Linked DNA regions of Homo sapiens. The protein of the gene in region 2 interacts with the protein of the main gene of each other region in a pairwise test. Each region holds a gene or a part of one and is shown on either strand. Other genes may lie near its edges.

Region 1 (7,000 bases), on a different chromosome or scaffold from region 2:
TTGCTCCAACAGACTTTGTTTTTAAAAGGCTTTTCTCAGCCATAGCTGTCTGTTCTAGCACAAGGCTGGAATGAGTTCCTTGTGAAAGAGGTGAGCAGGTGTGAGGGAGGGTGTCAGTGGGCGGTAACCCACACCTTCAAGGATTAAAGGAAAACTTGCATTTGGCATGCTTGCTTCTTATTCAATTTTAAAATACATTTTAACGGCCGGGCACGGTGGCTAACACCTGTAATCCCAGCACTTTGAGGGGCTGAGGTGGGTGGTTCACGAGGCCAGGGGTTCAAGACCAGCCTGGCCAAGATGGTGAAACCCCATCTCTACTAAAAATACAAAAAAAAAAAAAATTAGCCGGGCGTGGTGGCGGGCACCTGTAATCCCAGCTACTCGGGAGGCTGAGGCAGAGAATTGCTTGAACCCAGGAGGCGGAGGTTGCATTGAGCCGAGATCATGCCACTGCATTCCAGCCTGGGCGGCAGAGCAAGACTCTGTCTCAAAATAATAATAATAATTTTTTAAAAATACATTTTAAGTCCTTTTCTTCCCCACCTGCCTCCACCCACCAAATAGAAGAGGTATTTCTTCTTCTTTAATGTCATTAAGGTTATATGGATACCATTTTCTAGAGAGGAAAGAATGATGGAATTGCCTAGTGTGAGTCTAGCAATTATCCTAACATACACAAATTTCTCCTTGTTCTGTGCCAAGATACTGTATTTAATATTTAATGAACATTAAATATTATTTACTAGTGTATTTAATGGCTGAGGCAGGGTTAAATATGTATTATTTTCATCCCAGCAGAGTTGGGGGAGGTCCTAGTAACTATGCCATGAGCTCTGTGAGGGTGAGGTGGTGTCTTTGCCCCCGCCTCCCTGGCACAGTGACTGGCACATGATTGGCATAGTGTGGACATTCGTCAAGTGAAGGAAGGCATCATGAGCAGATCTCTGGCCTGAATCCTTCTGCCATCAGCTGCTCGCCAGGTGGCCCTGGCACTGGGCCACAGGGAAACTCTCCAGGCTGGTATGGTTCCTGTCTGTGGCTGTCTTCCCGGGCCCATGTTAGGAGACTTTCACTTCCAGAGCCCTTTCCCTCTCAGGGCCTTGCTTACCAAGTGACTGGTTCCCATTTACTAGGAGCTCTTAGGTCATTGAAGATGTTGCGTACTCCCCCCAGTGAGGGCTGCCTTTTGATCACAGCCGCCAGAAGCCTCAAGGAAGGAGCAGAGCTGGAAACAGACGCCAGGCCATTGCTTCTGTTCCTCTGGGGCAGACCCAGCCACGGAAGAGACATTCTGGGACAAGGGCTGGGGTCCACCTTTCAAACGTGTCTGCAGCAGGCTCTCAGCATGGACTCTCTGCCTCCAAACATCCACCTCCTCATCGGAAAATGGATGGGAGTGCCTGCCTGGAGCAGCTGGTGGGAGAGCGCAGCGCCAGCACGTAGGACACACTCGGTTCATGGGCTGATGCCGTTCGCATTGACTGCCTCTTCAGCTGGGTGTTGAGCCACACCTTGGAGTCACCAGTCTTTGGAGACCAAGTCTGCTACTTTTTTCTCTAAAGTGACAATCCTCTGAAACCTCCAGATCATCTTGAAGCCCCCGTCTGAAAGTTGCCCAGAGCCAGTGCCTCACCTGCTGTTCCTTGTTCACTTTTTCACGGGAGGCCTTGCAGGGCTTTATGACAAGATTTTATGGGTGGCTGCCCAGCATCATTGTGACTCGTGAGACAGAGAGAAACCAGTTGTAACCATGTAGACAGTGGAAGTGATAGGGAGAAAAGAGGTGAGGGGACTCTTCAATCCGAAGGGAAATGAAGTCTAAGCAGGCGCACCCTGCAGGTTCAGTGTCAAGCCCAGGGCCTGGCCCCAGGGTGTGGTATTTGTTGACTGGGTGTGTGGACCCTGGGAGAAAGTCTGAGAATGAATGTTCCTCTTAGAGGTAGAGAGTGGAAGGTGACTCTGTGTGTACTTGGAATTAGTGATTTCTGTACAGATGATTCTTTTAGAATCATCATGAGTATTTTTCTCTTTCAGACCCAAGAAACTCGAGAGATCTTACATTTCCACTATACCACATGGCCTGACTTTGGAGTCCCTGAATCACCAGCCTCATTCTTGAACTTTCTTTTCAAAGTCCGAGAGTCAGGGTCACTCAGCCCGGAGCACGGGCCCGTTGTGGTGCACTGCAGTGCAGGCATCGGCAGGTCTGGAACCTTCTGTCTGGCTGATACCTGCCTCTTGCTGGTAAGGAGGCCCTCGCGGGTGCCCTGGGGAGCTCCTCTACCTGCTCTGCTGTGATGTTTTTTCCTAAGTAGAAACTGAAGCGCTCCTCTTCCAAAATACAGAGACTCACTGTGTTAGTCTGTTTTTGCGTTACTAATAAAGGCGTACCTGAGACTCGGTAATTTGTAAAGAAAAGAGGTTTAACTGGCTCCCGGTTCTGCAGGCTGTACAAGCATGGCACCAGCATCTGCTCGGCTCCTGGGGAGGCCTCAGGGAGCTTCCAGTCATGGTGGAAGGTGAAGGGGAGCAGGAGCAAGAGATGGGGGAGGTCCCAGACTCTTAACCAGCTCTCTTGTGAATGCATTGCCTCAGGGAGGGCACCAAGCCTTTCATGAGGGACCTGTCCCCCTGACCCAGACACCTCCCACCCAGCCCCACCTCCAACACTAGGGATCACATTTCAGCATGAGATTGGGAGGGGACAGACATCTAACGGTGTTATTAACGTTGCCCTTGAGAATTGGACCTGGCTGACTTATATCTCCTCTCTGGCTTTCAGATGGACAAGAGGAAAGACCCTTCTTCCGTTGATATCAAGAAAGTGCTGTTAGAAATGAGGAAGTTTCGGATGGGGCTGATCCAGACAGCCGACCAGCTGCGCTTCTCCTACCTGGCTGTGATCGAAGGTGCCAAATTCATCATGGGGGACTCTTCCGTGCAGGTCAGCATTGCCTTTGTTTGAATCCAGGTGTGACCATTTTAACTTTTTTGTCTTTGAAGGAGGCTGTCAGTTGTAAAAGTTCAAACACCGTCTGGTGTCAGGGGAAATAGCTACCCTTCATGTTTAAAATAGCTAGAAAGTTGTCAAAATGTTCACCATGTTGCACTTTGTGCCTTTGAAGTGCTCACATAGAGAGCATTGATAGGAAGACGAGACTTTATTTTCAAAAGATTTCATCTTCCAAGTACATGGCTGCAGCCCTGAGAGGCCGAGAGCCCCTCGCCAAGCCGTCACCTCTGCTCATGCAAAGGGATTTCCTGACAAACCAGCCGAAGTGAACACTAATAGGACTTCCTCTTGCTGCTCTTTCAAGGATCAGTGGAAGGAGCTTTCCCACGAGGACCTGGAGCCCCCACCCGAGCATATCCCCCCACCTCCCCGGCCACCCAAACGAATCCTGGAGCCACACAATGGGAAATGCAGGGAGTTCTTCCCAAATCACCAGTGGGTGAAGGAAGAGACCCAGGAGGATAAAGACTGCCCCATCAAGGAAGAAAAAGGAAGCCCCTTAAATGCCGCACCCTACGGCATCGAAAGGTAATATGATTGGGTCCCAGCTTGTTGGGGTGAGGGGAAATGACTTTCTGTTCTAGAAACACACGCTGGTACTGAAACCCTGTGGATGCAGCCTCCTGTTGGCAAGCAGCGCTTCCGCATCCTTGGGGAACAGGGCGCGTGGACCACAGCCACTCCACTCCTGGCTGCTGGAGGTCCGGTATTGGGCACAGGGTGGCCGCAGGACATGAGCCACTTCTGTGGGCTTCTAGTGCCACCTTGTGGTGCTTGTTGGAATGAGGGGCTCGGAGCCACCGAGTAGGGTTTTTCTGCCCCCCCTGACGACAGCGCCCTCCCCCAGGTTTCCGGACAGTCCTGAAATGTGATGTCCAGGCTTGAGTGCCCTCAGTCCCCACAGTGGTCCTTTGGGGAATGTAACCTTTTTTATGTGGTCTTGATTAAATCCCATTTTACTTCCTTGCAGGTTAACAACCATTATTGAGTACCTATTGATATGTGTGGTGTACTGAGTTAACTAGAACATGTCCCCTGGTCTGTGTTCTAGACCATCTTGCTGGGAAAAAGGCAGACCCAAAGCATATTTTGGTGGGGGCCCATGGACAGTGATGTGATAGAGGTGTCCGCTGAGGTGGTCAGGGAAGGCTGCTTGCAGTAGGTGGCCGTGCACGGAAAGTTTGCAGAATGAGCAGGTGTTAGTTCCAGCTGGAGATGACTGCCGGCTGTGCCCTTGGTACCTGCTTTCTGGAGGGAAGTTTTAAGACGTGTGCATACTTGACCCAGCAGTTGTATACATGGAGAAATTTACTTTGCAGCAACTCTCAAAACAAGCGTGTAAAGATGTGTATAGGTAGTTGTGTTTGTTGTGGCATTGTTTGTAGTAGTGAAAAATTAGAGACAGGCCAATGATATAACCAGGGACCTGATCAATTATGTTCTCTCCCGGTGTTGGGATATTCTGTAGCTCTTAAAGAATGAGATCTGGGTGTACTGATGTGGCCAGACATTGCAATTGCAGTACATGAGAAGGCAAATCATACAGTAGTGTGTACACCAGTGAGTCCTCCAGCCAGATAAATCCTCACAGTGACCAGTCGCCCAGGCACCTTGTGAACCCTACCCTGGGTGTGGGTGCTATCTGAAGTACCTGGGGGAGGGGGTGACAAGTGGACTTCAGGCTGATGTGGGCCCTGGCCTGGCCCTCCCTCCAAGCAGAGGGGGCTGGCTCGCTGGAAGGTTAACATCATCCAACTCTGTCTACACGTGGCTTGTTTTTTCCTAGAATTCCTGCCACAATAGCAGCATCCTTGCCATTCATTTTCTCCAAAGTGAGTAACCCATCTCTGCCCTCTGATTCCTCAGCATGAGTCAAGACACTGAAGTTAGAAGTCGGGTCGTGGGGGGAAGTCTTCGAGGTGCCCAGGCTGCCTCCCCAGCCAAAGGGGAGCCGTCACTGCCCGAGAAGGACGAGGACCATGCACTGAGTTACTGGAAGCCCTTCCTGGTCAACATGTGCGTGGCTACGGTCCTCACGGCCGGCGCTTACCTCTGCTACAGGGTATGTTTCCACTGACAGACGCGCTGGCGAGATGCTCGTGTGCAGAGAGCACTGGCCGCTAGCCCGATGGTAGGATTCAGTTCTGTGGTGCATCTGAGCCAGTCTCAGAAGAAACAGATCAAAGGTTTTTAAAGTCTGGAACTGTGGAAGGGCTAACAAGAGAATTAAGGATCGATGCACTGGGGTTTTAAGGAGCCCTCTGGTCCCAAGAATATAAGAGTCTAATCTCAGGGCCTTAACCTATTCAGGAGTAAGTAGAGAAAATGCCAAATACGTCTGTTTCTCTCTCTCTTTTTTTTTTTATTCCTTTGTTTTTGGAAAAAAATAGAGTTACAACACATTGTTGTTTTTAACCTTTATAAAAAGCAGCTTTTTGTTATTTCTGGAACAAAAAAAAACAAAGTAGGCACTTATGAAACTTTCTCATACCCTTAGGTGATGTAATCAGCCATATAATTTATATTTGATTTCCCAGGGAAGGAATCCCAAACTTTTACGAATGTAAACTCCCTTGGAGAAGAGGGTTAGGACGCTGTTGCGCTCAAGCCCCCCTCAGCTGTGTGCACACTGAGCCAGGACAGGGTCTTTGAGCTTTCCCACTATAAGAAGAACAGCAACAAAAGGCCGTCTAGAAAAACAGAACCTGCCTCTGCTTCTGCTCAGGGTGTCCCCGCTGGGTTTCCATTGTCCTTTCTCCATTGCTCCCTCCTGTGACAGCCATCTTGCTCATGTACCAGCCCTCATCACCCCATCCCCATAAATGGGTGTCCTCGAGGCCTCTGCCTGGGGGTCAGAGGTCACCACAGGGTGGCCATTGGCATGTCAACCCGCTGTTAATTCAGAGAAGTGGGCTCCACCTCATTGGGAGAAGTGCCATTTCAGCAGAAATTCACACGTTAGACGTGTGTTGCTGTTAAGTAAGGGGAAGAGAGAGGACTAGCCTCAGAGCTCTGGCCATGGAAATGACCTCCTAAGACTTTTTCGTGGTTTTAAATATTTTACCTCTTTCCAGGTGGCATCTGAGTACATCAGATGGTTTTGCAAAATGCAAACAATTTTTTCCTTGGGGATGATTTTTGGGGAGAGGGGGCTACTGTAAAAAATAAAACCAAAACCCCCTTTGCTCCCTCGGAGGTTGAAGTTGCCGGGGGGTGTGGCCGGGGTCATGCATGAGGCGACAGCTCTGCAGGTGCGGGTCTGGGCTCATCTGAACTGTTTGGTTTCATTCCAGTTCCTGTTCAACAGCAACACATAGCCTGACCCTCCTCCACTCCACCTCCACCCACTGTCCGCCTCTGCCCGCAGAGCCCACGCCCGACTAGCAGGCATGCCGCGGTAGGTAAGGGCCGCCGGACCGCGTAGAGAGCCGGGCCCCGGACGGACGTTGGTTCTGCACTAAAACCCATCTTCCCCGGATGTGTGTCTCACCCCTCATCCTTTTACTTTTTGCCCCTTCCACTTTGAGTACCAAATCCACAAGCCATTTTTTGAGGAGAGTGAAAGAGAGTACCATGCTGGCGGCGCAGAGGGAAGGGGCCTACACCCGTCTTGGGGCTCGCCCCACCCAGGGCTCCCTCCTGGAGCATCCCAGGCGGGCGGCACGCCAACAGCCCCCCCCTTGAATCTGCAGGGAGCAACTCTCCACTCCATATTTATTTAAACAATTTTTTCCCCAAAGGCATCCATAGTGCACTAGCATTTTCTTGAACCAATAATGTATTAAAATTTTTTGATGTCAGCCTTGCATCAAGGGCTTTATCAAAAAGTACAATAATAAATCCTCAGGTAGTACTGGGAATGGAAGGCTTTGCCATGGGCCTGCTGCGTCAGACCAGTACTGGGAAGGAGGACGGTTGTAAGCAGTTGTTATTTAGTGATATTGTGGGTAACGTGAGAAGATAGAACAATGCTATAATATATAA
Region 2 (7,697 bases):
GCAGTGTACAGTAGTGTTTAAGGGCAGGGGCTCTAAAGTCAGACTTCCAGAGTAATACCCCCCCCCCCAACCTCACAAATCAGTTTCTACTATATTTATATCTGCCATCCCAGTGTTGGTGGTAGGGTCTTCAGATCCCTGGGGAAGCAGATGGTGGGATGAGAGTAGGAGAGTTGTGTTGGGACTCCAAGTGTTGAAGGGGCACAGAAAGAGCTGAGTGGCACAGAGAGGTTGTCCCAGAGTAGCGGAGTCTGCTTTGGGGAGAAGAGAGATTGACTGAGGATAGCATCAAGTTTTTCATTTTATGTACAAAGATGATCTTTTTAGCTTCACCCAGGAAGTATGGGTTTTGTGTCTTCCTCGTGTTTAGGTTTTTATTCTGACCTAATTAGGTCTAAGCTGAGGTGCTTATTTCTCTTCTGGAGTTTATATCCTAGAAGCTCTCCAATCGAAGCCCTCTGCAGGTATCCTCAGGTCCTGGAGAAACACAGCAGGAAGGCTTGTTGGCTTCGGAAAGGGAGGGCTATGGTTTAAAGCCAGTAAGATGTGGGTTTGATTCTTGACTTTGTCTCCTGTAGGCTGTGTGGCCTTAAATAAGTTACCTAATCTCTTGAGTCCTCAGTTTCCTCATTTGTAAGGCAGAGGAAACAATGCCTATGATTATGCTGATTAAATGAAACAGAGGCACAAAATAAGTGTTTAATGAATGACAACTACTATTGTCATTATTCTTCCTATCCATGCTATCTGCCATGTATTGGAGGCAAAAGCTGTTACTACTTCATGCATATGCGCTATGCAGGCTTCCAGAATGAAACTGATGGGGTCCCTTTCCCCCACATATGTGAGAGGGGGTCCCTCTTATTTCAACTCGTTCCTCATTGCTGGTTTGGCATATCTCAGCTACTCTAACCCGGCAAGAATCCACAGAAGAAGCCAAGAAGGAAAAAGGCTTATACATTTGCTTTACCCATAAGAAAACCTCAAGCCCTGTATCTGAAAAAAGAGGAAGATAAAAGGATCTATAAGACTTCAAGTTCCATGAGAAGAGGGACATGTCTATTTTGTTCAATACTCTATGCCCACTGCCTGGCACATAGGCAGCAAAACAAATATCTGTGGAATGCTATGTAAAGGCATCTATAGATGATGTGCCTCCCTTTAAGAAACCCAATATTTGAATATTTGCACTCATTCATACAAGATCCTCAAGTGCTCCGTTTGGATAATCTGGAGGGTATGAAAACATAGCCAAGATCATGAATTCTTTGGGCATTTGGGCCGCTGCACTGTTGCACCATTTAGACCTGTGATCTGAGAGTGTGAAAAACTCAAGGGATCCTCTGTAAAGTGTCTGCCTTTTTTTCCCTCCTGGGAGGAGCCGTTAGAAGGGCAACATTCTCCTTTCTCCCCCTTGGACGTGTGGGTGTTGGGGCAAGGGTGAGGAGTGACAGAGGTCTCCTGGGAAGACCATAAGATGGGGCAAGCACACCACAGTGAGGAGGGGGAGTCTGGCTATGACTTTAGAATTTCCTGATCGAAATTTCTCCTCTAAAGCTCCCCACCCTACTTGGGATCTGAGGTTATCATCCCCTCCCAGTCCCAAGAACCCTTCTTCCCTTGTTGGCAGAAATCTCCAGGAAGCATGCCCACAGGAACCACAACTCATGAATCAGAAGACAGATAATTAACCGAGGGAGTGACTGAGCAGCTTCAGGGATGAACCGCTTCGTTTTACCCAGCCCTCTCTGCTGCCCACAGAGTGGGCTGCTCCACCCCATCGCCTCTGCTCCCTCTTCCTGAACCTTGGCCCTTCCTGAGTGGGACCTTCATTGTGCCTGATGGAGCTCAGGCCACTAGTGGAAATGAAGGTGGGAGCAGGGAAATGACTCTGTTTAGGGGAACTGCCTATTCCCCGTGTGGGAACTGCTGGCATTTATTGAAACGTGAGACTCTCCAGCAAAAAAGTGATAGCATCTGCCTTTCTGTCCACACACACAGTCTCACCAAAAACACTCTTTTTTTTTTTTTGTTAGATAATTCAGGTATAATTTATGTACAGTAAAATTCACCCTTTTTAGTGCATACAGTTCTATGAATTTTGACAAATGCATATAGTCAAGTAACCATTGCCATCATCAAGATACAGAATTTTTCCATCATCCCCTAAAATTCCCCCAAGCTCTTTTTTTCCCTTCTTTTTCTTTCTAGAGGCAGGGTCTCACCATATTGCCCAGGCTGGTCTCGAACTTCTGAGCTCAGGCAATCTGCCCACCTCGGCCTCCCAAAGTGTTGGGATTACAGGCGTGAGCTACTGTGCCAGGTGCCCCCCCAGCTCTTTTGTAATCGATACCCTACCCTCAACCCTCGTCGGTTGCAACTGCTGATCTATTTCCTGTCCCTGCAGTTCTATGTTTTACAAAATGTCATATAAATGAAAGCATGCAGTGTATAGACTTTCAGTCTGGCTTCTTTCACTTAGCACAATACATTTGGGGTTAATCTATGATGCTGCATCTATCAGTAACTCTAAGACATTGTCTGAGGCCACTCCGTCATCCTCCGTGTTGGAACAGTTACCCTGAAAGCAGTGGGACTGGATCCGTTAAACTTTGGAGGTGCTCCCCAGCTTTCAGCTTCTAAATTTTATAATTGGATAGATGTATTTAGCTATATATAAGTCATTAGATTTTCCATGTGCTAAGTAGTTAAAGACTTCAGGATACTAGAGAGGATTCTGTAGCAACCAACACTTATTATTCTTGCTCATAGGAGTAACAGATATTTTGTGGCCAAATATTGTATGTCATGATGCTTGGAGTCAGAAGTTGTTAAGTAAACCTGGGGGCTATTCTACCTTTTTACATTTTTGGTAGCATCTCTGAAAAAACAACCCACTTGACTTTTTTTTTTTCCTTTTTTTTGGGAGGGTGGGTGGGTGGGTGGCTTTTTGGCCAAAACCAGAAAGCTTGCTAGACAAATTCTAACACTAGATCTAACACTAGATGTCTTATTTCTGTTTTTCTGTCATGTTCCCATGAAAAGACTATTTACTTACCCCCCTCTCTCGGTTTTATAGTTGAGTTAGTTCAATTTCTTAGTTCAGTTAGTGAAGATGTTTAAATATTCAAGGAGAGAAAGAAAAAGAACAAGGTGATACACATTTTAAAAAAGTCAAAATAACAAATATTGTTATTTCTTGGCTGGGCGCGGTGGCTCATGCCTGTAATCCCAGCACTTTGGGAGGCCGAGGCGGGCGGATCACCTGAGGTCAGGAGTTCAAGACCAGCCTGACCAACATGGAGAAACCCTGTCTCTACTAAAAATACAAAATCAGCTGGGCATGGTGGCATGCGTCTGTAATCCCAGCTACTCGGGAGGCTGAGGCAGGAGAATCGCTTGAACCCAGGAGGCAGAGGTTGCAGTGAGCCGAGATTGTGCCATTGCACTCCAGCCTGAGCAACAAGAGCAAAACTCTGTCTCAAAAAACAGAACAAAACAAAACAAATATTGTTATTTCTCAAATAGGTTCATCCACATAGGATCATTGTCAGTCGTTAAAATTGCTGGTTCCCTTCTAATTCTATTCCCCTATAATGTTCATATTAATCAGGTGGTGTGTTCTGTTTAGACATTTCCCCTCGCATTTATGTTTATTTGTGTGTGTGTGTGTATTCCTTTACTTAAACCCATGATATATAGTACTTCCTTTTATATAGAAAAAAGCTCAGTGTGGAAAGAACAACGTATCTGGAATTAAGAAACCTACATTCGATTCACAGTTCTGCAGGCTTTTTCATCAGCTTGCTGGGTGACTTTGAACAAGTGACTTTACCTTTAGGCATCAGTCTCTTGGTGTCCCAGGGGCTGCAAAGTGGGACAGAGAAGATGAAGGGAAATACTTCAATTTGCTCCTGCCCCTTCCCCACCACCTTCAACTGGAACTCCTTTAACTAATTAACAATTTGGAGTTCATGTAAGGATTTCTTTGGGAAAAAAAGAAGATCCTGCTGTTAAAATCAAGCTTGAAAAACTTTGCACTAGAAGAGAGCTCCAGAAGTTTGGCAAAAGACATATTCAGTAGCCACTTAAAAAGTCCCTGTAGTCAACCCTACATCTCTTTGCTAATGGAAATTTTGGATAGAGAAACCTGGGTCTGTGAGATCCACTGATGGCTCCAGACCCCAACTTTAGCCATCGCACGTGTTGAACTCCAGGTTGAGCCTTTGCTGGAGCCGCCTGCAAGGAGCATGTTTGACCAATCCCCAGTGGAGGGGAGGGTGGTGTTTCCTTTCTGGGACTTCCACAAGTTGAGAACAGACCATGCTGCCCTGGGCAGTTCTTGAAGGCTGTGAGAGTGGGCCTGACAAAGTTTATTCCTTTTTTTTTTTCCATTCTCTTTTATTATTATTATTGTTTGAAATTGACAAATAAAAATTATGTATATTTATGATGTACAACATGATGTCTTGAAATATGTGCGCATTGTGGAATGGTTAAATGAAGTTAAATAACATATGCATTACCTCACATACATACTTCTGATTTATTTGTGGTGAGAACACTTAAAAATCTCCTCCCAGCAATTTTCAGGTAGATGACATACGGTTATTAACTATAGTCACCATGTTGTACAGTGGATCTCTTGAACTTATTCCTCTTGTCTAACTGAAAATTTATATCCCTTGACCAGCATCTCCTCATGCAAACCATACCCCAAAGCTCATTTCTGTGTTCCTGCTGAGTTTGCCATTCCAAGAGGTTTTGATGCTGAAGGTGCAGTTTGTGGAAAGCCCAGCAGACTCTGGGGAGCCTACATTTAAATAAATGCAAATGTCGACAGGGAGGCAGAACAGAGGACATTTCAAATTAGCTTTAATTTTCTTTTAGCTTATAAAAGTAATTAAGCTTATTATTTAAAAAAAGGCAGCTCAGAAATATAATGCAGAAAGTACCAGTACCAGTTCCTTGTAGTCTTGTCCTTAAAGATAACCACTGTTGATAGTTACTGCAGAGTTTTTTTCTATGTATTTGTCAACATATATAATTATTTATCATTATTGTTATTTCTCAAATAGGATAATCAATAATAGGATCATTGTCTTTTTTTTTTTTTTTTTTGAGATGGAGTCTCACTCTGTCGCCCAGGCTGGAGTGCAGTTGTGTGATCCCAGCTCACTGCAACCTCCGCCTCCTGGGTTCAAGCAATTCTCCTGCCTCAGATTCCCGAGTAGCTGGGATCACAGGCATTTGCCACCACGCCCAGCTAATTTTTGTGTTTTTGATAGAGACAGGGTTTGGCCATGTTGGCCAGGCTGGTTTTGAACTCCTAACCACAGGTGATCCACCCGCCTCGGCCTCCCAAAGTGCTGGGATTACACGCATAAGCCACCGCACCTGGCCCATTGTCTCTTAATAATATACTCTAGGCATCTTTTTATGTCAGTTTATGGCTTTCCATTATTTATCCCAAGAGCTATAATTCTAGCCATAAGGCATACTCTTTGTTATATGGATATATCAGAATTTACTTAACCAATTCCCTGTTGGCAGACATTGGGATCATTCCCAATTATTTGCTACTACAAATAAAGCTGCAGGGGATATCCTTATTCATTTATTATGCACCTTTGTTCAAGTGTTTCTACAGACTTAATTTCTTGAATGAAAGTTGGTGGGTCGAAGGGCATGCGTATTTTAAATTTAAATTTTAGTAGGTGTTGTCAATTTGTCCTCCCAAACGGTTGAACCAGTTTGCTTTCCTACCAAGACAGGCTGGCAGTAAGGACTGGTGTTAGCACCGCGGCCTGCTGTCCACACCCATAACACATGAGCTGGGGGAGGAAGGCTGCAGAACTGGACAGCAGGATGCCAAGGAGGTCACCAATAGGGCACCCCTGGGCTGAGCCTCGGACAGCTTGGTACAGACCTGCTTCTTCTGTATACTGAATGAGGTGGGGTCGATGCTAATAAAAATTTCCAGAACTCTTGAGATGCAGCGTTTGAGTCAAATATCAGGCCATCAGGAAGAAATGGCCACTTGTGCCTTGTTTGAGGGTTCTCATGCCTTGGGTTGCTAGGCTTCCTAGGGTATGAGTCCCCCTGTTGATGTTTTCTGGCTGGAAGAGTGGATACTTCCAGGACTGGCAGCACCTTGAAGATCATCAAATTTGACACCTGTTTGTTTTACAAAAAAGCAAAAAGGGAGTTCCTGAGAAGTGAAGTGACTTGTCCAAGATCATACAACTGGCTCAGTGGCATTGGTTGGGTCTCTCCCTGGGGACTCTTGTCTCCTGCCCAGAGTGATTTCTTCACTATATCCTGTTAGAGACAAAGGGCCCTTTCACGTCTGACCCTGAGGTGGAGGCGAGGGGATGGGGATTCCTGGTGTAGGAAGTGACTAGAGTGAAAGTAAGGGGGAAGGAAATGAACATTTATTGAGCATCCACTATAGAGGGTTCTTTCATACGTGTTATGTCATTTAATCCTAACAACTCGGGAGCACTGGGGAAAGGAAGCAGCTGTTTGGAGTCTCCGGTGCTTGGCCGATGTGGCTGGTTAGACCCGTTAAATACTACAGAGCAGTTATCACTTCTCGACTATGAATGTGACATAGACTCAAAGAGGCACTGGGCCTTGGAGAGAGCACCAGAGAGATGAAGGGATGTACTTGAGGTCATACGGCCAGAGGAAGGGCAAAGATGGCTTTAGACGTGAGGTTTCCTGCTGCTTTGCATGCTTTTTCTGCCATATCCATCTGTTGTTTTACTGCTCCTGCCTTACCACATTTCTCAGGAGCTGGGTGTTAATTTTAGACCACAACCTTAGAGAAGACAGGACTCTGTCCCTGGAATGGGCTTTATGCAGTCTTCAGCACATGGCGACCTAATTAACCTCATTGGAGATGATAACCAGACATAATGTGGCTTCATTTACAAGGACAGGACCTGCCCTAGATCTTCCCATTAACATCATCTTGAAGTGTCAGCTCCACAGAGAGACCTTTCCTGACCACATGCTTTAAAGGAGACTCCTTCCCTCATTGCTTGCTATTCCCCGCCCCCCCCACCCCCACCCTTTCTTTTCCCTTTGAGGCAGAGTCTCACTCCATCACACAGGCTGGAGTGCAGTGGCACGATCTTGGCTCACTGCAAACTCCGCCTCCCATGTTCAAGCAATTCTCCTGCCTCAGCCTCCCAAGTAGCTGGGATTACAGGTGCGTGCCACCATGCCCAGCTAATTTTTCTAGTTTTAGTAAAGACTGGATTTCGCCATGTTGGCCAGGCTGGTCTTGAACTCCTGACCTCAGGTGATCTACCCGCCTTGGCCTCCCACAGTGCTCAGATTACAGTGTTAGCCACCATGCCCGGCCTATCCTGCTTTATTTTCTTACAGCATGAAGGGTCAATGAAAGGATATGGCCAGTGGTCAAGACATTTGAACTTTGTGTACAGGGAATCCCCTTGCTCAGACAAAAATCCTTCCTGTTTTTCCCTTGTGAACAAAAGTTCTCTGAAAAGGAATTGGGAGGAAAGACTTTATTCCAATGAACAGTTTGGAAACTGGGGAAACTCAGCTGTTGGTGTCAGAATTGGGGGTTTATAATGAAAGTTCCTGCCTAGGATCCTGATGAGGTCCACTTATGCAAATGAACAATTCCAACTTGCTTAGTTCTGTTTGGTTGAAACAACTGAGGC
Region 3 (7,837 bases), on a different chromosome or scaffold from region 2:
AAATTAAGAATGAGAACACCGTATAAGACAATGGACTTGACTTTGCTCTTTTTTTTTTTTTTGAGGCAGAGTCTCACTCTGCCGCCCAGGCTGGATTGCAGTGGCGCGATCTCAGCTCACTGCAACCTCCACCTCCAGGGTTCAAGCAATTCCCTAGCCTCAGCCTCCCAAGTAGCTGGGATTATAGGTGCATGCCACCATGCCCACCTAATTTTTGTATTTTTAGTAGCGACGGGGTTTCACCATGTTGGCCAGGCTGGTCTCAAACTCCTGACCTCAAGTAATCTGCCTGCCTTGGCCTCCCAAAGTGCTGGGATTACAGGCATGAGCCACCACACCCGGCCGACTTGACTCTTAAGAAAGTTGAAGTCATTAAAAAATGTGCAAGTGGTCTGTGTAGACTCAAAAATACCCATATGCAGTGCATGAACCTAGATCGGATCCTCGTTCAAAAGATAAAAGCAAGGAGGGAATAAAGGAAAGAAAGAAGGAAGGGAGGGAGGCGCCAGGTGTGGTACCTCACGCCTATAATTCCAGCACTTTGGGAGGCCAAGGTGGGCAGATCGCTGGAGCCCAGGAGTTTGAGACCAGCCTGGGCAACATGGGAAAACCCCATCTCTACAAAAAAAAAAAGTACAGTAATTAGCCAGGCATGGTGGCGTGAGCCTGTGGTCCCAGCTCCTCGGGAGGTTGAGCTGGGAGGATCGCTTGTGCCTGGGAAGTCGAGGCTGCAGTGAGCTGAGATTACACCATTGCACTCCTGCCTGGGTGACAGAGAGGGACCCTGTCTCGAAAAGATAAATAAATGGCCGGGCGCGGTGGCTCATGCCTGTAATCCCAGCACTTTGGGATGCCAAGGCGGGTGGATCACAAGGTCAGGAGATAAAGACCATCCTGGCTAACACAGTGAAACCCCATCTCTACTAAAAAAAAAAATACAAAAAAAAAAAAAAATTAACTGGGTGTGGCGGCGTGCGCCTGTAGTCCCAGCTATATTTGGGAGGCTGAGGCAGGAGAATGGCGTGAACCCAGGAGGCAGAGCTTGCAGTGAGCCGGGACGGCGCCACTGCACTCCAGCCTGGGTGACAGAGCGAGATTCCGTCTCAAAAAATAAAATAAAATAAAATAAAATAAAAATAAATGAATAAAATAAAAAAGAAAGGGAGTGAGGGAGAGAAGAAAGGAGGCAGGAAGAAGGAAAGAGGGAGAGAGGAGAAACCACAAAATACATTTTGGGGACAATTGGAGAAATTTGGGTATGAACTGGGTGTTAGATGACATACAGGAATTATTGTTAATTTTGTTAGATGGGATAATGATATTACATGTATGTAAGACAATAGCTTTATTCTAAGGAGATGCATGCTGGAATATTTAGGGGAAAAGTGTCAAGCATCTATAATTTACTTTGTAATGGTTTGGCTAAAAAATAAAAATAAAAAAGATAAAACAAATATTAAAAAATGCTAATCATTGGTGGTAGAGGTTTTGTTTGTTTGTTTGTTTGTTTGTTTGAGGCAGAGTTTCTCTCTTGTTGCCCAGGCTGGAGTGCAGTGGTGCAATCTCGGCTCACCGCAACCTCTGCCTCCCGAGTTCAAGCAATTCTCTCCCAGCCTCCCAAGTAGCTGAGATTACAGGCACCCGCCACCACACTCAGCTAATTTTTTGTATTTTTAGTAGAGACGGGGTTTCACCATGTTGGCCAGGCTGGTCTCCAACTCCTGAGCTCTGGTGATCCACCCACCTCGGCCTCCCAAAGTGCTGGGATTATAGGCGTGAGCCACTGCGCCCAGCCATTGGTGGAGATTTGAAAGTCTTTGTACGATTCTTTCTTTTGTATTGTTGAATATTTTCCAAAACAGAAATTTTAAAGAGACAAAGCAAAATTCTGCCCATCTTCAGATGGAAAGATCATCTCTCTCACCCACCTTTCTTGTTTCCCCAACAAGCATGCAGTTCTCCCTTCCTGCCCGAGCCCACAGCCTCTAGCCCTCTGGTAGGGCTGGCAACTTCTCTCTCCTACTGAGCTACAGCTCCTGGGGGCAAGGACTTCAGCTCACTTGCCTTTGTGTCCCCCATCCCACCACATTGCCTGGCACACACCGGGCTCAATAACAGATACTAATGCCTCCTGCGTGCCAGGCACTGTGAAAGTCCTTAGTTTTATTCACTGTCGTGGTGGCTTGATGAGGTGGCTGTTTGCATCCCATTTTACATATAGGGAAGCTGAAATGCAGAGAGAGGTTAAGTCACTTGCCCAAGGGAACACCCCTTATCCGTGGTGGAGTCCTGCTGATGTATTTATTTATTTTTTTTCAGATAGGGTCCCACTCTGTGCCCAAGCTGGAGTGCAGTGGCATGATCATGGCTCAATGCAGCCTCAACCTCCCCAGGCTCACTTGATCCTTCCACTTTAGCCTCCTGAGCAGCTGGGACTGCAGGCACAGGCCACCACACTAATTTTCGTATATTTTTTGTAGGGAGGGGGTTTCACCATGTTTGTAGAGAGGGGGTTTTGCCAGGCTGGTCTCAGATTCCCGGGAATCTGCCTCTGCCTCCTGCCTCGGCCTCCCAAAGTGCTGGGATTACAGGTGTGAGCCACCACATCCGGCCTGGAGTCCTGTTTAGCCTTGGGTCTGGCTAGCCTGAAAGCCTGGTTATTGTGTCCAAATTAAATCTAAATTCAGTTCTTAACATCCTAATGAGATAGATGGGGGTGATCATTCCCATTTTATGGGAGTAGAAGCTGGACCTGGGGAGGGTAGAGGGTGTCCAAAGGGTCAAATGAGGAAAAGCAGAGCCGTGCTTTGCATTTTCGCTTCTATTTTATGCCAGGCTCTGTCCCGTACCCTATGGACATAAACTCACTTAGTCTTCACATTGGTCCTCGCAGTGAGGGTGGAGGCAGGTGGTGGACCCTACTGGTCTTGAGCTCAGACCTCAGAGCCAGCTGGCTGGGACGAATCCAGGATCCCTCATTTCCTGGCTGGTGAACCTAAGAAAATGTCTTTTTTTTTTTTTTTTTTTAGACAGAGTCTCACTCTGTCACCCAGGCTAGAGTGCAGTGGCGTGATCTTGGCTCACTGCAACCCTCTGCCTCCCAGGTTCAAGCGATTCTCCTGCCTCAGCCTCCCAAGTAGCTGGGATTACAGGTGTGCACCACACCCAGCTAATTTTTGTATTTTTAGTAGAGACGAGGTTTCACCGTGTTGGCCAGGCTGGCCTCGAACTCCTGACCTCAGGTGATCCACCCACCTCAGCCTCCCAAAGTGCTGGGATTACAGGCGTGAGCCATCGCACTCGGCCTCCTCCTCTGTTCTTACATGAACAGAGCAGAAAGAACACGACCTCAGTTTTTATCCCTCCTTGTCCCTCTCTGGGCCTCAGTTTCACCAGTTATAAAAAGAGGGATTGGACATTGGGAATGAGAAGGCTACTAGCTTCCCATGTGCACAGGCCAGGACAGATTCTCTGAGCATGAGTGGACCTTGGCTCCTGCCAAGGGTGTTCCGCTACTTCAAGAAGTATCTAGCCTCCTAACCCCTAACCCCATGCACCAGGCAGCCCATTGGGTTGGGTGGGGGGGCGGGGGGGGGTGGTTGAGGAGAGAGAGGTCCCTGGCCTTGGGATCTGTGGCCCCTCTGCCCAGCCCAACTGGCTCATAGCGTGGGATGCTGGCTCCACAACTGGTTTCCCTCAGATTGGCAGCCTGGAGACACCAGTACAGCTCAGTCCTATACCAAGGCAGAGCTGCTGACTCTTCTGGAGTCTCAGGGATTGTTGCCACTGCCTTTAGGGAAGGCTGCCATGAAGGCAGACTGTGTTCTAATGTGCTCCCAAGGCTGGCAAGCCTCTGCACCCTTCGGTGAGAGCCTGTTGGAGGGCCGGTGCTGGGAAGCCCTCTCCCCATTGCACTAGCCCAATGCTCTCTTTGGGCAGATAGAGAACTCAGGCCCCACGAGAGGCAAGCCTTATCCAAGCCACGGCTACAGAGTTGAGGAGCCAAGAGCCACAGAGTTATCGGGGATGGGTTGGCAGCCACCTTGTTCTTTGGGCTAACAGGGGCCAGAGCAGAGGTGGGAGTGGGTGCAAAGCAGGGAGCGGGAGACCGGGAGGTGGAGGCAGGGAGGCCAGGGCTCTCTCCTGGGTCCTGAGCTGTCCACATTCTGCTCATCATGGTGGTGGGAGGGGAGTTCTCCACTCTGATGCTGTGGATAACCTGGGGTGGCTCCGGGCCTCAGTTTCCCCATCTATCCATATGAAGTTGGACTCAATCCTTCTTTCAGCAGACCCTGCACCAAGCCCCTGCTGACTTCAGGCTCCCTGCTGGGCTCTGGAGATGCATAGATCAACAAGGTCCCCCAGGAGCTTGGGATTCTAAGAGGGGAAATTTAGGGGTCCATCCTGATGTGGGCGAGGCATTCTCTGGATCAAAGAAGAGCTTGTCAGACCCAGGATGGAGGGGCCCTGAGTCTCTCCCGGCCCCTTGGCGCCCCGCTCTCTATTCCACGGCCTGCTGGCCTTTTGTGTGTTGCCCACTTAGGATCAAGGGCCCCAGGCCAGATCCTAGGGCATGTTCCCAGCTTGTGGCAGGAGAGGAGGCCTTTGTACCCAGGCAGGCCCAGTCCAGCCTCCCGGGGAAGGTCCCAGTATGACAAGCCTAGGATGGTGAGAAGCCCAGGGACACAAAGCCGGCTTGGTTCCTTGGCAACATCCTGAGGAATCCAGCGGCTGCACACTGGCTCCCTTCCTCTCCCCTCCCACCCTCCTGCCTGCGGGGGCTGGAGGCGGAGGCAGCCAACCCCATTATAAAAAGCCACAGATCTCTGGCGGCGGCAAGGGGACAGCACTGAGCTCTGCCGCCTGGCTCTAGCCGCCTGCCTGGCCCCCGCCGGGACTCTTGCCCACCCTCAGCCATGGCTCCGATATCTCTGTCGTGGCTGCTCCGCTTGGCCACCTTCTGCCATCTGACTGTCCTGCTGGCTGGTAAGTGGGGCTTGACTTGGGCACAAACAGGGTAGGGAGCCCCCAGCCCCTTGTCTATCCCTCAAGCCTGACATCAGGGGCCCCAGACCCTGCCTGGGTAAAGCTCAAGGCCGGTGGCAGCCGCTTCCCCAGGGATGTGCGAGAGGGGGCTGGGCACCTCGCTTCCCCCAGATGCAGCGCTGGACAGATTTCCAGTTGCCAGCGACCGCCCTGCCTGGCCCAGCGAGCAAAGTGGCTGTGCCTGGAAGCACAGAGAGGTGGTGTGGGTGGCATAAGGGAGCCAGGTGTGGGTGTGCCAGGAGGGCGGGGGTGGAGAGAGCCTGCAGAAGCTCCTGCTGGGCACTGGGGTGGGAGGCCCTGGCTGACAGTGGCTGGCTCTTTCCATCAAGCGTTAATGTGTAACCCGCAGCCCTGGCCCTGGGCCAGGCCACAGTTGGGACTTTCTCCTGTCCTGTTTTCAAAGCCCCCAGGATTAGGGGGCCCAGGACCAGTGAAGGTCAAGGTCACTGCAGCTCATGGTTGGGGCTTGCCACTGCTGTGCTAGTCTATAGCCCCAGTTGCTCTGCCTGTGTCTACCCGTCATGCTGTCTTCCTCCTCCAAGCACAGTGTAGAAAATGCTTTTGCCTCTAGTCACTTGCTTACTGAAGCCCAGGACCTGGTAGGGGTACATAATTAACCATCCTACCTGATATGGATAAGATGGAGGCCCAGAGAGGTTTAGAAACTGGCCTGACAATGCACAGCCAGCAAGTAGGGCAGGAGAAGGTAAGACACATGGGACTGAATGCAGGAGAGAGCACAGATGCACACTCACCACCTCTGTGGGCCACATCACCTCCATGAACCGCTAGCCAGCCCCCTCCTCAGGGAGTGCCCCCACCATCTGGCAGGGTGACCTTCAGAGAAGGTGGGCACACAGCAAGTCTGGGAGAATGAGAAGTAGTCCCCACTGTCCAGATATTTCCATGGAGCAAACTCACCCTGGGGCAGGGAGCAGGTGTGTGGGTGGGTGGGCACGTGAGAGTGGTGGAGGCAAATTCCTGCTGGCTTCCTGCTGTCTGGGCTGGGGCCCTGAAGCCTGAGGTGTCTGCGGACAGTGAGATCTGGAAAGCAGGGAGTCAGATGGCGGCTGCTTTGCCACAGTCCTGTTATGTGACCGTGAGCAGGGTCTTGCCTCCTCTGGTCCCAGTTGCTGCATCTTTAAATATAGCTATTACCTCTCCGGTGGATTGGGGGAGGGTGACGAGGTTCCAATGCCTATGGAGGTGTTTTGAAGAGGGCGGAGGAGGAGGATTACTTTTACTAAGCTGAGAGAGGGAAGGGTCCTAGGCTAGGATGGAAAGGGGACACTGGGGGACCCTGGGTGCTCAGACTAGCAGCCTGAGGCTTTAGAACCAGGCTTCTGCCCTCATCTTGGTCATTGGCTTTACTGGAAGATCCTGGGCATTATTGGAACCTTTCTCAGCCTCACTTTCTCCTCCTGTAAAACTAGGCATTTGACCAGGCTCACCTTGGAAGTCCTCTCCCACGCTGACATGTATGGCTCTGAGAGGCCCTCGGGAGCCCCTGTAGGACAAGGGGGTGGTTTGGAAGCCAGAGAGACCCCGAGAGGAGGCTGGGGGGTTCGTAGCTGCTGCCCTGACTAGTGTGGGGCAGCTGCGTCAGTCCCCAAATGTGGGTTTGTGGGGCTGTGTCAGGCAGGAGGCTTCTGTACTTTATATAACAAACCTGCAGCTACGAGTCAGTGCAGAGCATTGCCCCCCCACTCCAAGAGCTGACGCATTCACTCCCACTCAAGTCCTGGCAAGAAAGAGAAAAAAAAACGAATCTGTTTTAAGCTCCTATAGCCTACCCGCCTCATTAGCAGTGGGGGTGGATGGGGAGGGCATGGGAGGATAAATTCAAGAGTGTCAGATCCAGGCCCCTGTCTAATTTAAATAAAAATTCCTCCATTTTTCTGTTGGTTAAGGTATTATGCCACAAAGCGCTTCCTTAGGCATTTTGTCCATTCATTCAACAAATAGTTATTGGACACCTACTGTGTGACAAACCTGGTTCTAGGTACTGGGGCGGCATCAATAAATAAAACAGCCAAGGACCTCAGCCCTCGAGGTGCTGTAATTCAACTGCAGAGGACACATAACACACAAAGTAAATCAGTAAACAATGTGGTCTGTTGGAAGGAGAAAAGGCACTGTGATAAAAAAATAGAGAGGGGTGGCTGGGCGCAGGGGCTCATGCCTGTAATCCCAGCACATTGGGAGGCCAAGGCGGGCAGATCACCTGACGTCAGGAGTTCAAGACCAGCCTGGCCAACATCATGAAACCCTGTCTCTACTAAAAATATAAAATTAGCTGGGTGTGGTGGTGCATGCCTGTAGTCCCAGCTACTTGGGAGGCTGAGGCAAGAGAATCGCTTGAACCTGGGAGGCAGAGGTTGGAGTGAGCCGAGATCGTGTCACTGCACTCCAGCCTGGGTGACAGAGTGAGAGTCCATTTAAAAAAAAAAAAAAGAAAGAAAAGAAAAGAAAAAGAAAAATAGAGAGGGGAGAAGAGAGGTGTTGACATTTTAAATAGGGGGTTAGGGAAGCCCACTGAGTAGGTGGCTTTGCACAGTTTGGAGCGGGGTGAGGGCGGGAGCCATGTGGATATCTCTAGAGCAATGGTCCTCAGTGAGTAATTTTGCTCCCCTATGGGCCATTTGGCAATTTCTAGAGAAATTTTTTACTTGTTACAAATATCCCAATGTTTTTGGTTCAGTTGAGCTACTCGCCTCTAGTGTGTAGAGGCCAGAGATGCTGCCAAACCTCCTATAGTACCCGGGACAGCCCCCAAAACAAAGAATTGTCT

The links.
Region 1: the proteins of ITGB3 (region 2) and PTPN1 interact in binary tests that used the Homo sapiens proteins (3 or more experiments, as listed by UniProt).
Region 3: the proteins of ITGB3 (region 2) and CX3CL1 interact in binary tests that used the Homo sapiens proteins (3 or more experiments, as listed by UniProt).

The regions. Positions count from the first base shown.
Region 1 is NC_000020.11:50,576,383-50,583,382, forward strand, and holds part of PTPN1 (tyrosine-protein phosphatase non-receptor type 1), read left to right. Parts: intron 1-2,037; coding exon 2,038-2,247; intron 2,248-2,785; coding exon 2,786-2,947; intron 2,948-3,320; coding exon 3,321-3,544; intron 3,545-4,882; coding exon 4,883-5,078; intron 5,079-6,309; coding exon 6,310-6,333; 3' UTR 6,334-7,000. UniProt on the Homo sapiens protein: Tyrosine-protein phosphatase which acts as a regulator of endoplasmic reticulum unfolded protein response. Mediates dephosphorylation of EIF2AK3/PERK; inactivating the protein kinase activity of EIF2AK3/PERK.
Region 2 is NC_000017.11:47,256,417-47,264,113, forward strand, and holds part of ITGB3 (integrin beta-3 precursor), read left to right. Parts: intron 1-7,697. UniProt on the Homo sapiens protein: Integrin alpha-V/beta-3 (ITGAV:ITGB3) is a receptor for cytotactin, fibronectin, laminin, matrix metalloproteinase-2, osteopontin, osteomodulin, prothrombin, thrombospondin, vitronectin and von Willebrand factor.
Region 3 is NC_000016.10:57,367,653-57,375,489, forward strand, and holds the start of CX3CL1 (fractalkine isoform 1 precursor), read left to right. Parts: upstream 1-4,837; 5' UTR 4,838-4,916; coding exon 4,917-4,986; intron 4,987-7,837. UniProt on the Homo sapiens protein: Chemokine that acts as a ligand for both CX3CR1 and integrins ITGAV:ITGB3 and ITGA4:ITGB1. The CX3CR1-CX3CL1 signaling exerts distinct functions in different tissue compartments, such as immune response, inflammation, cell adhesion and chemotaxis.